Homo sapiens: one gene and its partners. The protein of the gene in region 2 purifies or fractionates together with the protein of the main gene of each other region. This does not show direct contact. Each region holds a gene or a part of one and is shown on either strand. Other genes may lie near its edges.

What was found.
Region 1: the proteins of ECSIT (region 2) and DECR1 purify together in Homo sapiens (affinity purification with mass spectrometry; 2 studies listed by BioGRID and IntAct, with this or other methods). This does not show direct contact.
Region 3: the proteins of ECSIT (region 2) and ABCC10 purify together in Homo sapiens (affinity purification with mass spectrometry; 3 studies listed by BioGRID and IntAct, with this or other methods). This does not show direct contact.

Annotation. Positions count from the first base shown.
Region 1 is NC_000008.11:90,021,917-90,025,566, forward strand, and holds part of DECR1 (2,4-dienoyl-CoA reductase [(3E)-enoyl-CoA-producing], mitochondrial isoform 1 precursor), read left to right. Parts: intron 1-3,650. UniProt on the Homo sapiens protein: Auxiliary enzyme of beta-oxidation. It participates in the metabolism of unsaturated fatty enoyl-CoA esters having double bonds in both even- and odd-numbered positions in mitochondria.
Region 2 is NC_000019.10:11,519,019-11,522,668, forward strand, and holds part of ECSIT (evolutionarily conserved signaling intermediate in Toll pathway, mitochondrial isoform 1 precursor), read right to left. Parts: intron 3,533-3,650; exon of another isoform or gene 2,913-3,532; intron 176-2,912; 5' UTR 153-175; coding exon 57-152; intron 1-56.
Region 3 is NC_000006.12:43,444,460-43,447,802, reverse strand, and holds part of ABCC10 (ATP-binding cassette sub-family C member 10), read right to left. Parts: intron 3,016-3,343; coding exon 2,865-3,015; intron 2,679-2,864; coding exon 2,489-2,678; intron 2,205-2,488; coding exon 1,861-2,204; intron 1,527-1,860; coding exon 1,357-1,526; intron 1,253-1,356; coding exon of another isoform or gene 990-1,252; exon of another isoform or gene 903-989; intron 556-902; coding exon 395-555; intron 298-394; coding exon of another isoform or gene 289-297; exon of another isoform or gene 205-288; intron 120-204; coding exon 1-119. UniProt on the Homo sapiens protein: ATP-dependent transporter of the ATP-binding cassette (ABC) family that actively extrudes physiological compounds, and xenobiotics from cells.

The DNA of each region.
Region 1 (3,650 bases), on a different chromosome or scaffold from region 2:
ATAGCAAACATGTCTAATGTATATATGTGTGTATATTCATATATATCTAGAACCAGCGTACATTTATTCACCTGACAGACACTTACTAATGACTTTTGGGTAGCAGGCCCTATACTCATGCTCAAAGCACAGAGGTGGACAAGACCCTGTCCCTGAATAATTTGGGGAACTTGAAGGGTGCGGGTATTTTCTCAGAGAAGGTGGAGAGTATTTTAAACAAGGAAAATGAGGAAGCGTTCTCATGCTCCTCAGAGGATGTCCTTTGAGGGTTGAGGGGAGGAAAGAGGGCATGGAGCTGGCTAGGTTCCTCCCTCTGTTCAGAAACCTTTGCCTTATAAGGTTCAATTTCTTCTTTTGTGCAGCGCAGGTGATCCTAGAACCAGCTTGAGATACGCTGTAGGAACAGAGAGATGCTACAGAGGCACTAGCTCTGTGTGTGTGTGTGTCTGCTCACATACATACACTAATAGCTTCCATCCTTTCTATGCACTCATTGAAATTGAAATTCCTGGTTACTCATTTCCATGATGGCAGAATGGATGTGATTTATAATTGGATTTTGGATAAGTGTTTTATTTGATGTTTTTTTTTTCAGTGAGGGGCAGGAAGATGGATAAGAGTGGGAAGGGGGGACAGGGAAGAGTGTGACTCCTCTCTCTTCCCTTCTCTGTCCGAGGAACCTTGATCTCTGTATCTCTCCTGTGTCTCTGCCTCTGTCTGATTTTCTCTCGCCCTACCCCTTGCTGATATCTCCATTTCATTCTCTACTGCTCTGCCTCTGTCAGCTCCTCATTTTTGGTTCTCTGTTTCTCTCTTCATCTGTCTCTTTCGTTTCTTTGTCCTTCTTTGCCTCTTTGTCTCTTATTTCTTCCCTCGCTCATCTCTGTGACCCTCAATTTCTGTCTGACTCTCCCTTCTTCCCTCATTATTGTCTTTCATTTTAACATAGACTCTGATCTATTTTTGTTCATCACATTGGATTAAAATTCTATGAGCTTCATTAAAAATATATTAGATAAAATATCTTTTTAAAAGATGGAAGCCAGTTTTTATTCTTCCAAGATTCCTGTCAGTTATTGATGCTATAAGCTGACAGAGTTTGGAGAACTTGGACCACTCAGCTGAGGGGAGTACGCGGTAAAGGATTTGTTCTGGTACTGGATCGACAGTCAAGGAACTGAAGCGTGACATTTTTAACAATATCATGTCTTCCAGTCTCTCAATGTGGTATCTCTCACCATTTATTTAGGTCTTCTTTAATTCCTATCAGCAGTGTTTTGCATGGGCATTGTACATGTTTTGTTAACTTTCTCCCAAAGTATTTAAATTTTTGGTGCTATTGCAAATGGCACTGTTTTCTAAATGTTATTTTCTAGGTGTTTTCTTGTAGTATTTAGAAATACAATGGATTAGTTTTGTGTATTGATGTATTCCCTAGGAGCTTGCTAAACTCACTTAATGGTTATTACAGTTTTTTTTTGTTTAGATTCCTTTGGATTTTCTGCATTGGTAATACTGTTGGTGAAAAAAAGACAGTTTTTATATTTTCCTTCCCAACTGATAAGCCTTTTATTTTCTTTCTTGCCTTATTTTATTGGATGGGACCTTCACTAAAATATTGAATAGGTAAAAACTTAGATTCTGCTGGTTCCTAGTATTAAGAACAAATCAAATACATTTCCTCCTGATGCCAGGAGGAAAGCAATTAGATTTTCATTATTAATTATGATTTACCTGTAAATTTTCATAAATATCCTTCATCAGCTTTGGGAAGTTATCTTCTATATCTAGTTTGCTGATAGCTTTTTTTTATTATTACACTTTAAGTTCTAGGGTACATGTGCACAACGTGCAGGTTCGTTACATATGTATACATGTGCCATGTTGGTGTGCTGCACTCATTAACTCATCATTTACATTAGGTATATCTCCTAATGCTATCCCTCCTCTCTCCCCCAACCCCATGACAGGCCCCAGTATGTGGTGTTCCCCACCCTGTGTCCAAGTGTTCTTATTGTTCACTTCCCACCTATGAGTGAGAACATGTGGTGTTTGGTTTTCTGTCTTTGCAATAGTTTGCTCAGAATGATGGTTTCCAGCTCCATCCATATCCCTACAAAGGACATGAACTCGTCCTTTTTTATGGCTGCATAGTATTCCATGGTGTATATGTGCCACATTTTCTTAATCCAGTCTATCATTGATGGACATTTGGGTTGGTTCCAAGTCTTTGCTATTGTGAATAGTGCCACAATAAGCATACATGTGCATATGTCTTTATAGCAGCATGATTTATAATCCTTTGGGTATATACCCAGTAATGGGATGGCTGGGTCAAATGGTAATTCTAGTTCTAGATCCTTGAGGAATAGCCACACTGTCTTCCACAATGGTTGAACTAGTTTACAGTCCCACCAACAGTGTAAAAGTGTTCCTATTTTTCCACATCCTCTCCAGCACCTGTTGTTTCCTGACTTTTTAATGATCGCCATTCTAACTGGTGTGAGATGGTATCTCATCGTGGTTTTGATTTGCATTTCTCTGATGGCCAGTGATGATGAGCATTTTTTCATGTGTCTGTTGGCTGCATAAATGTCTTCTTTTGAGAAGTGTCTGTTCAAATCCTTCGCCTACTTTTTGTTGGGGTTGTTTGATTTTTTTCTTGTAAATTTGTTTAAGTTCTTTGTAGATTCTGGATATTAGTCCTTTGTCAGATGGGTAGATTGCATAAATTTTCTCCCATTCTGTAGGTTGCCTGTTCACTCTGATGGTAGTTTCTTTTGCTGTGCAGAAGCTCTTTAGTTTAATTAGATCCCGTTTGTCTATTTTGGCTTTTGTGGCCATTGCTTTTGGTGTTTTAGACATGAAGCCCTTGCCCATGCCTATGTCCTGAATGGTAATGCCTAGGTTTTCTTCTAGGGTTTTTATGGTTTTAGGTCTGACATTTAAGTCTTTAATCCATCATGAATAAATTTTTGTATAAGGAGTAAAAGGAAGGGATCCAGTTTCAGCTTTCTACATATGGCTAGCCAGTTTTCCCAGCACCATTTATTAAATAGGAAATCCTTTCCCCATTGCTTGTTTTTGTCAGGTTTGTCAAAGATCAGATGGTTATAGATGTGTGGTATTACTTCTGAGGGCTCTGTTCTGTTCCATTGATCTATATCTCTGTTTTGGTACCAGTACCATGCTGTTTTGGTTCCTGTAGCCTTGTAGTATAGTTTGAAGTGAGGTAGTATGATGCCTCCAGCTTTGTTCTTTTGGCTTAGGATTGTCTTGGCAATGTGGGCTCTTTTTTGGTTCCATATGAACTTTAAAGTAGTTTTTTCCAATTCTGTGAAGAAAGTCATTGGTAGCTTGATGGGGATGGCATTGAATCTATAAATTACCTTGGGCAGTATGGCCATTTTCATGATATTGATTCTTCCTATCCATGAGCATGGAATGTTCTTCCATTTGTTTGTGTCCTCTTTTATTTCATTGAGCAGTGGTTTGTAGTTCTCCTTGAAGAGGTCCTTCACATCCCTTGTAAGTTGGATTCCTACATATTTTATTTTCTTTGAAGCAATTGTGAATGGGAGTTCACTCATGATTTGGCTTTCTGTTTGTCTGTTATTGCTGTATAGGAATGATGTGATTTTTGCACATTG
Region 2 (3,650 bases):
GAGCAAATCCCAAGCTTACCTCCCTCTACCCAAAAGACTGCCTGGCTGGTGCTTACCTGAGAGATGGAGGTTCCTGTGAGGGCGGCCCCGCAGGTGCCTCCCCAGGCCCTACAGAGGCCTCGGGCCAGTAGGGTGGCCTGGACCCAGCTCATGCCTCTGCTTGTCAGACAATCACCTGGCCCAAAAGAAGATTCAGCATTAGCCTGGCACCTTACAGATGCTAACAGACGCAAGGGCCCCGCAGGGTCGAGGGCACACTCCAGATTATGTGGCTCACTCACCAGCCCCAATGTTTACCTTACCCAAGAAACAGGCTGATGACTCAAAGACTTTGTTCTTGGGACAGCACCCTAATCCTGCTGCCCCAGGGGCGTGATCATAGCTCAATGCAGCCTCCAACTTCTGGGCCCAAGTGATCCTCCAGCCCCAGAGCGTCGAGAAGCTGGGACTACAGACGCGTGCCACCATGCCCAGCTAATTTGAAAATAGTTTGCAGAGACCCAGGGTCTTGCTGTGTTGCCCAGGCTGGTCTCGAACTGTTGGCTTCAAGTGATCCTCCCATCTCTGTCTCCAAAAGTGCTGGGATCATGGGTGTGAGCCAGCACTCCTAGCCACTACAATCTAATTTTACAAAATCTGTGTCACTCCAACAAGAATCCCTGTACCTGGCCAGGCGCGGTGGCTCACGCCTGTAATCACAACATTCTGGGAGGCTGAGGCGGGCGGATCACTCGAAGTTGGGAGTTCGAGACCAGCCTGACCAACATGGAGAAACCCCATCGCTACTAAAAATACAAAAAATTAGCCGAGCATGGTGGCGCACGCCTGTAATTCCAGCTACTGGGAAGGCTGACGTAGGAGAATTGCTTGAACCCAGGAGGCAGAGGTTGCAGTGAGCCAAGATGATGCCATTACACCTCAGCCTGGGGAACAACAGCAAAACTCCATCTCCAGAAAAAAAAAAAAAGAAGAAAAAAAAAAAAGAAAGAAACCCTGTACCCATTAGCACTCAATTTCCCTTCACTCCCAACCCCAAGAAACCACTCATCCACTGTCTCTATAGATCTCCCTATGCCGGCCATTTCATACAAATGGAATCTGGAATCACAAGTGCTCCTTTATGATTGGTTTCCTTCACTTGACATGTTTTTTTTCTTTTTTCTTTTTTTCTGAGATGCAGTCTCGCTCTGTCACCCAGGCTGAAGTGCAATAGTGCCATCTCGGCTCACTGCAACCTTCGCCTCCCGGATTCAAGCGATTCCCATGCCTCAGCATCCCGAGTAGCTGGGATTACAGGTACATGCCACCACGCCCGGCTAATTTTTGTATTTTTAGTAGAGATGGGGTTTTATCACGTTGGCCAGGCTGGTCTCGAACTCCTGACCTCAAGTGATCCGCCAGCCTCAGCCTCCCCAAGTGCTGGGATTACAGGCGTGAGCCACCGCACCTGGCCCACTGACGTGTTTTCAAGGTTCATGCATAGATTTTTTTTTAATTTTTATTATTTTTATTTTTAGACAGGATCTTGCTTTGTTTCCCAGGCTGGAGTGCAGTGGCACAATCTCAGCTCACTGCAACCTCTGCTTTCCGGGCTCACGATTCTCCTGCCTCAGCCTCCTGAGTAGCTGGGACTATAGGTGTGTGCCACTGCATCCAGCTAATTTATAGATTTTTTTGTAGAGATGGGGTTTCGCCATGTTGCCAAGCTGGTCTCAAACTCCTTACCTTGTGATCCGTCCGCCTCAGCCTCCCGAAGTGCTGGGATTATAGTCGTGAGCCACCGCACCCGGGCTTTTTTTTTTTTGAGATGGAGTTTCATTCTTGTTGCCCAGGCTGGATTGCAATGGCATGATCTTGGCTCACTGCAACCTCTGCCTCCCGGGTTCAAGTGATTCTCCTGCCTCAGCCTCCCAAGTAGCTGGGATTACAGGCACCCGCCACCATACCCAGCTAATTTTTGTATTTTTAGTAGAGATAGGGTTTCACCATGTTGGCCAGGCTGGTCTTGAACTCCTGACATCAAGTGATCCACCCACCTTGGCCTCCCAAATTGCTAGGATTACAATCATGCCCGGCCAATTCCACTGTTTTTGGAATGGAATATAACCAGGTTTTGTATGGCTATAACCATATTTTATTTATGCATTCATCAATTGATGGACATTTGGGGTTGTTTGCCAAATGTTTTTGACTGTTATAACTACTACTGCCATGAACATTCGTGTAGAAGTTTTATGTGAACACATGTTTATACTTCTCTTGGGTATATACTTAGGAGTCAAACTGCTGAGACATATGGTAACTACATGTTTAACATTTTTAGGAACTGCCAGACTGTTTTTGGGGATGACTGCACCATTTCACATTCCCATCGGCAACGTACAGTTGACCCTTCATCAACAAAGGCTTGAACAGCATAAGTCCATTTATACGTGGATTTTTTTTTTTTTTTTCAGTAAAAGTTATGGCTGTACGTGGTGGCTAACGCCTGTAATCACAGCACTTCGGGAGGTCGAAGCAGGCAGATCACCTGAGGCCAGGAGTTCGAGAGCAGCCTGGCCAACATGGGAGAGACCCTATCTCTACTAAAAAAACAAAAAAACAAAAATTAGCCAGGCTGGGGGCACACTCCTGCAGTCCCCAGCTACTCAGGAGGCGGAGGCAGGAGAATCACTTGAACCCAGGAGGCAGAAGCTGCAGTGAGCCAAGATCGTGCCACTGCACTCCAGCCTGGGCGAAAGAGGAAGACTCTGTCTGAAAAATAAGAATAAGACCAGGTGTGGTGGCTCACGCCTGTAATCCCAGCACTTTGGGAGGCCAGGCAGGATAATCACTTGAGGTCAAGAGTTCAAGACCAACCAACCAACGTGGCAAAACCCCATCTCTACTAAAAATACAAAAATTAGCCAGGCTCCTTTTGCCGGTGGCGGCAAGCATGGAGAGGATGCCATGAAGGCCTCGGGCACACTACAAGAGTACAAGGTGGTGGGTTGCTGCCTGCTCACTCCCAAATGCCACACACCACCCCTCTACCACATGCGAATCTTTGCACCTGATCATGTCGTTGCCAAGTCCCACTTCTGGTACTTTGTATCTCAGCTAAAGAAGATGAAGAAGTCTTCGGGGAGACTGTCAACTGTGGGCAGGCATTCGAGAAGTACCGCCTGCGGGTGAAGAACTTCGGCATCTGGCTGCGCTACAAACTCCCAGAGCAGCACCCACAACATGTACCAGGAATATTGGGACCTGACCACCACGGGCGCTGTCACCCAGTGCTACCGAGACATGGGCGCCCGGTACCCCACCTGGACCCATTCCATCCAGATCATGAAGATGGAGGAGATAGCAGCCAGCAAGTCCCACCGGCTGGCCGTCAAGCAGTTCCAAGACTCCAAGATCAAGTTCCCGCTGCCCCACCAGGTCCTGCGCCATCAGCACAAGCCACGCTTCACCACCAAAAGGCCCAACACCTTCTTCTAGGGGTAGGGCCCTCACCCAGGTGTGCCCCACGTAAACTCAGGAACGCCCCGGTAAAAAAAAAAAAAATTAGCCAGTCATGGTGGTACATGCCTGTAATCCCAGCTACTCAGGAGGCTGAGGTGGGAGAATTGCTTGCACCTGGGAGGCAATGTTACAGTAAGCTGAGATCG
Region 3 (3,343 bases), on a different chromosome or scaffold from region 2:
TTCTCTCCAGGCTGCACGCAGAAGGTCACTCCATCCAGGGCATTCGGCAGCCCTGGCCGGTACGCCAACACCACGTCCTGGAACTCCACGCCCCCCTGGGTCAGCCAGCCGGTGCCCAGCTGGTGGGGTCCATGGGTGGGAGACAGACGGGGAAAGGGAGATAGGGGAGATGAGGAGCGATGGTGAGGAGGGGAGAATAATGAGAAATGGACAGTGTGAGAGGAATGAGAGAATGAGAGATGGGGAAGAAGGGACATGGTGAAGAATTGTGGTCATCATGAAGAGAGGTTATGGGAGCTGAGAAAGATGGGTGGGCAAAAAGAAAGGAATTGTGAGGGAGACTGGGGCCTTCAGGGTTCCAGAGCTTTGGCCTGGGGTGGGGGTACAGGCCCACCTGCAGTGGCTGGCCCTGGGGTTCCTGGGGCAGGTCACAGGTGTACTCTTCCAGCCGCTCGACGCTCACCAGCATGGCCTCTGTCTGTGTGAAGCTGCTCACCAGGCCCGAGAGCAGGCCCGTCAGGGACAGGGCATAAGACAGCGACAAGCCCACCAGCCCTGGGGGAGAGAAGTACCAGCTGCTGGGAGAGCTTGGACACCGGGACGTTTGTGGGAGACTCCCCAGGCTGTGGACTGCTGGCATTTAAAGGAAGCAACAGAGGCTGGGCGCGGTGGCTCACGCCTGTAATTCCAGCACTTTGGGAGGCCAAGGCAGGTGGATCACGAGGTCAGGAGTTTGAGACCAGCCTGGCCAACATGGTGAAACCCTGTCTCTACTAAAAATACAAAAATTAGCTGGGCGTGGTGGCAGGCGCCTGTAATCCCAGCTACTTGGGAGGCTGAGACAGGAGAATTGCTTGAACCCAGGAGGCAGAGGTTGCAGTGAGCCGAGATCGTGCCACTGCACTCCAGCCTGGGCAACAGAGCGAGACTCCATCTCAAAAAAAAAAACAAAACAAAAAAGCAACAGAGAAGCAGGAGGGTGATAGGACCTAGCCAGGAGCACAGGAGGCCAGATGCAGGGCAGGGGGTGGGCCTGGAGAAGCTGGGAGGGACGGCATGTGGGAGACTGAAGCGGGCTGGGGCAGTGTGGTGGGGACGGGGTGGAAGCAGGGAAGGGACTGAGACCAGCAGCTCAGAAGACTCATTCTAGTCCCCAAGCCACCACCACCTGGGCAAGTCCCTCCTGGGGATTGTCTCCTCAACTCCAAACGGGGGTGATGATGATAATCATGATACATCCTCACAGGGAACCCTGGGTGGGAGGTGAAAATGTTGGGGGGATGGTGCAGGGAGAGATCTGGGAGAGCGGTGGACTAACTTGTGGATGAGGTAGGGGTGAGGGGTCCTGGGTGGCACCTGGGTTAGCGAGGCCCTGCTGGTGCTGCACCAGAGCGATGCCTGCGATAGCGCTGACCACTGCCGCCCCCATGAGCTGTAGCCGAATGTCCAGCCACTGCATTGTGGCACTGGTGGCAAACTGGCACCTCTGGTTTAGCTCAAGGAGTCGCAGGTTCTCCTCCTCAAACCTAGGGAAGGCCAGAGGGATGTGAAGCCACTCCACTGTTGCCCTGAGCCACCCAGCCTCAGGGCCTCAACAGGGAAGGCCCTTATTGAGCAGCTCCTTCTTGGGAGCTGGTCTGTATACCCACAGGCCTCCCTCAGGGCTGCAGATGCCAGTGTGCTCTTTCAAAGTGGGGGTCCACTCTGCCTCCCTATCTCCTTCTTCTGTTGCTTTCCTCCTTCCCCATCCCTTGTCCCCAGGAGGGCTGAACCAACCATACCCTGCATATTCCTCTTCTTGGGGGTCTCTCTTTTCCTCTCCCCCCAACACCTCATCCCCCTGGGCTCTGGTTCACACACCTGTAGGTGGCCCCTGTGGCCCGGAGCACAGAGAGGCCAGCCAAGGTATCGGCCAGATGGCTATACAGTGGAGACAGGGTGAGGCTGCCCAGGCGCCGCAGCTCCCGTGAGGAGGCCCTGTAGTGGCGCTGCACGTGATAGTACATGATGCTCAAAGGCGGCAGCAGGAGCAGCAGCCAGGGCAGGCCAGAGCCCAGCACGGCCAGGAGCCCCAGCAGGCCTGCCGCGTTGGCCAGGAGGATGTTGAGGATGAAGGGCAGGCTGTCATCCGCACAGGCCACATCAGAGGAGAAGCGGTTTAGGATCCGGCCCGTGGGTGTGGCATTGAAGAAAGTCACTGGTGCCTGGGAGAAGGACGCTGATTGGGCCAGGGCAGAGTCTGGCAGAAGAGGGGTTGGCAGGCAGCACTGGGGGAGGTGGGGTGGAGGGGAAGGCCCAAGATAGAGAATAGGGAAGGACTAAAATATCCCCAGAATTTGGGGGCAGAGAAGAGAGATTGGCAGAGGTTGAGGAAGAATATCCCAGGGCAGGAAAGACTCTCCCATCCCCAGTGGAGCCCGAGTATTGGGAGGACACTCCACAGGGGCTAGGACTGCACTCCCCTACCCCCGAGGTCCCAGCCCCTCACCATAAGGACTCGATGCAGCAGGCGGCGATGCAGAGTGGCAGCTGCTTGAAGGGTGCCTGCTGCAAAGAGCACTGCCCGGAGAAGGGTGCAGAGGGAATTTACACCAGCAATGGTCGCATACACGGTGAGGTAGAAACGGATGTCTGAGGAGCCATTGGGGGCAGCTTTGGGCAGTGGGAACACTGGGATGCTGGGTGGTGAGGAGGGGGCTGTCGGTAACCAAAACTAGGGCCACTCGGGGGTCCTTTCTCCTCCCCCATGCCATCTCTCCCACCCTCCAGAAGTCACAGCATCTGGAATACCGGCCACAACCCTCACTCCCTGCCTGGCGACCACTCTGAGAGCACCAGGCCTACCCCCAGCCCCAGCCACTCACTAGAGGTTTCCAGGGGAAAAGAGGAGCAGCTGCGGAGAGAAGAGCCCCATAGAAGCTGGGCTGGTGGAGGGTTGCGCCTCCTGGGAGCTATTCTCAGCCTTCAGCTGAGAGATCCAGTGGGAGAGCCACCAGTCAGCAGCGTTCCGCGTGGCTGGGTGGGGACAGGAAGGAAAAAGCTGTAAGAGGCTCCTCTCCCTTGTTCATTCTATTCCAATGCCCCCTTTCTCCGCCCTTGCCTCTGGTTCCTGCCCATCTCCATCCGCCTGGCCTGGCCTCCCCACCCTGCCACTACCCCATATCCTCCCTAGTGTGGGCTTCTCTCATAGGCCCGTCACCCTTCAGCTCTGGGGAGAACAGGATCTCAGACTTGCAGAATGGGAGCTAACCTAGGGGGCAGAACAGAAGCCAGCTATAGAGCACATGCCTCTGGCCCCTGGGCATCTCTCAGAATTAGGAGTATGGCTTTTGTCCCAGCTGTG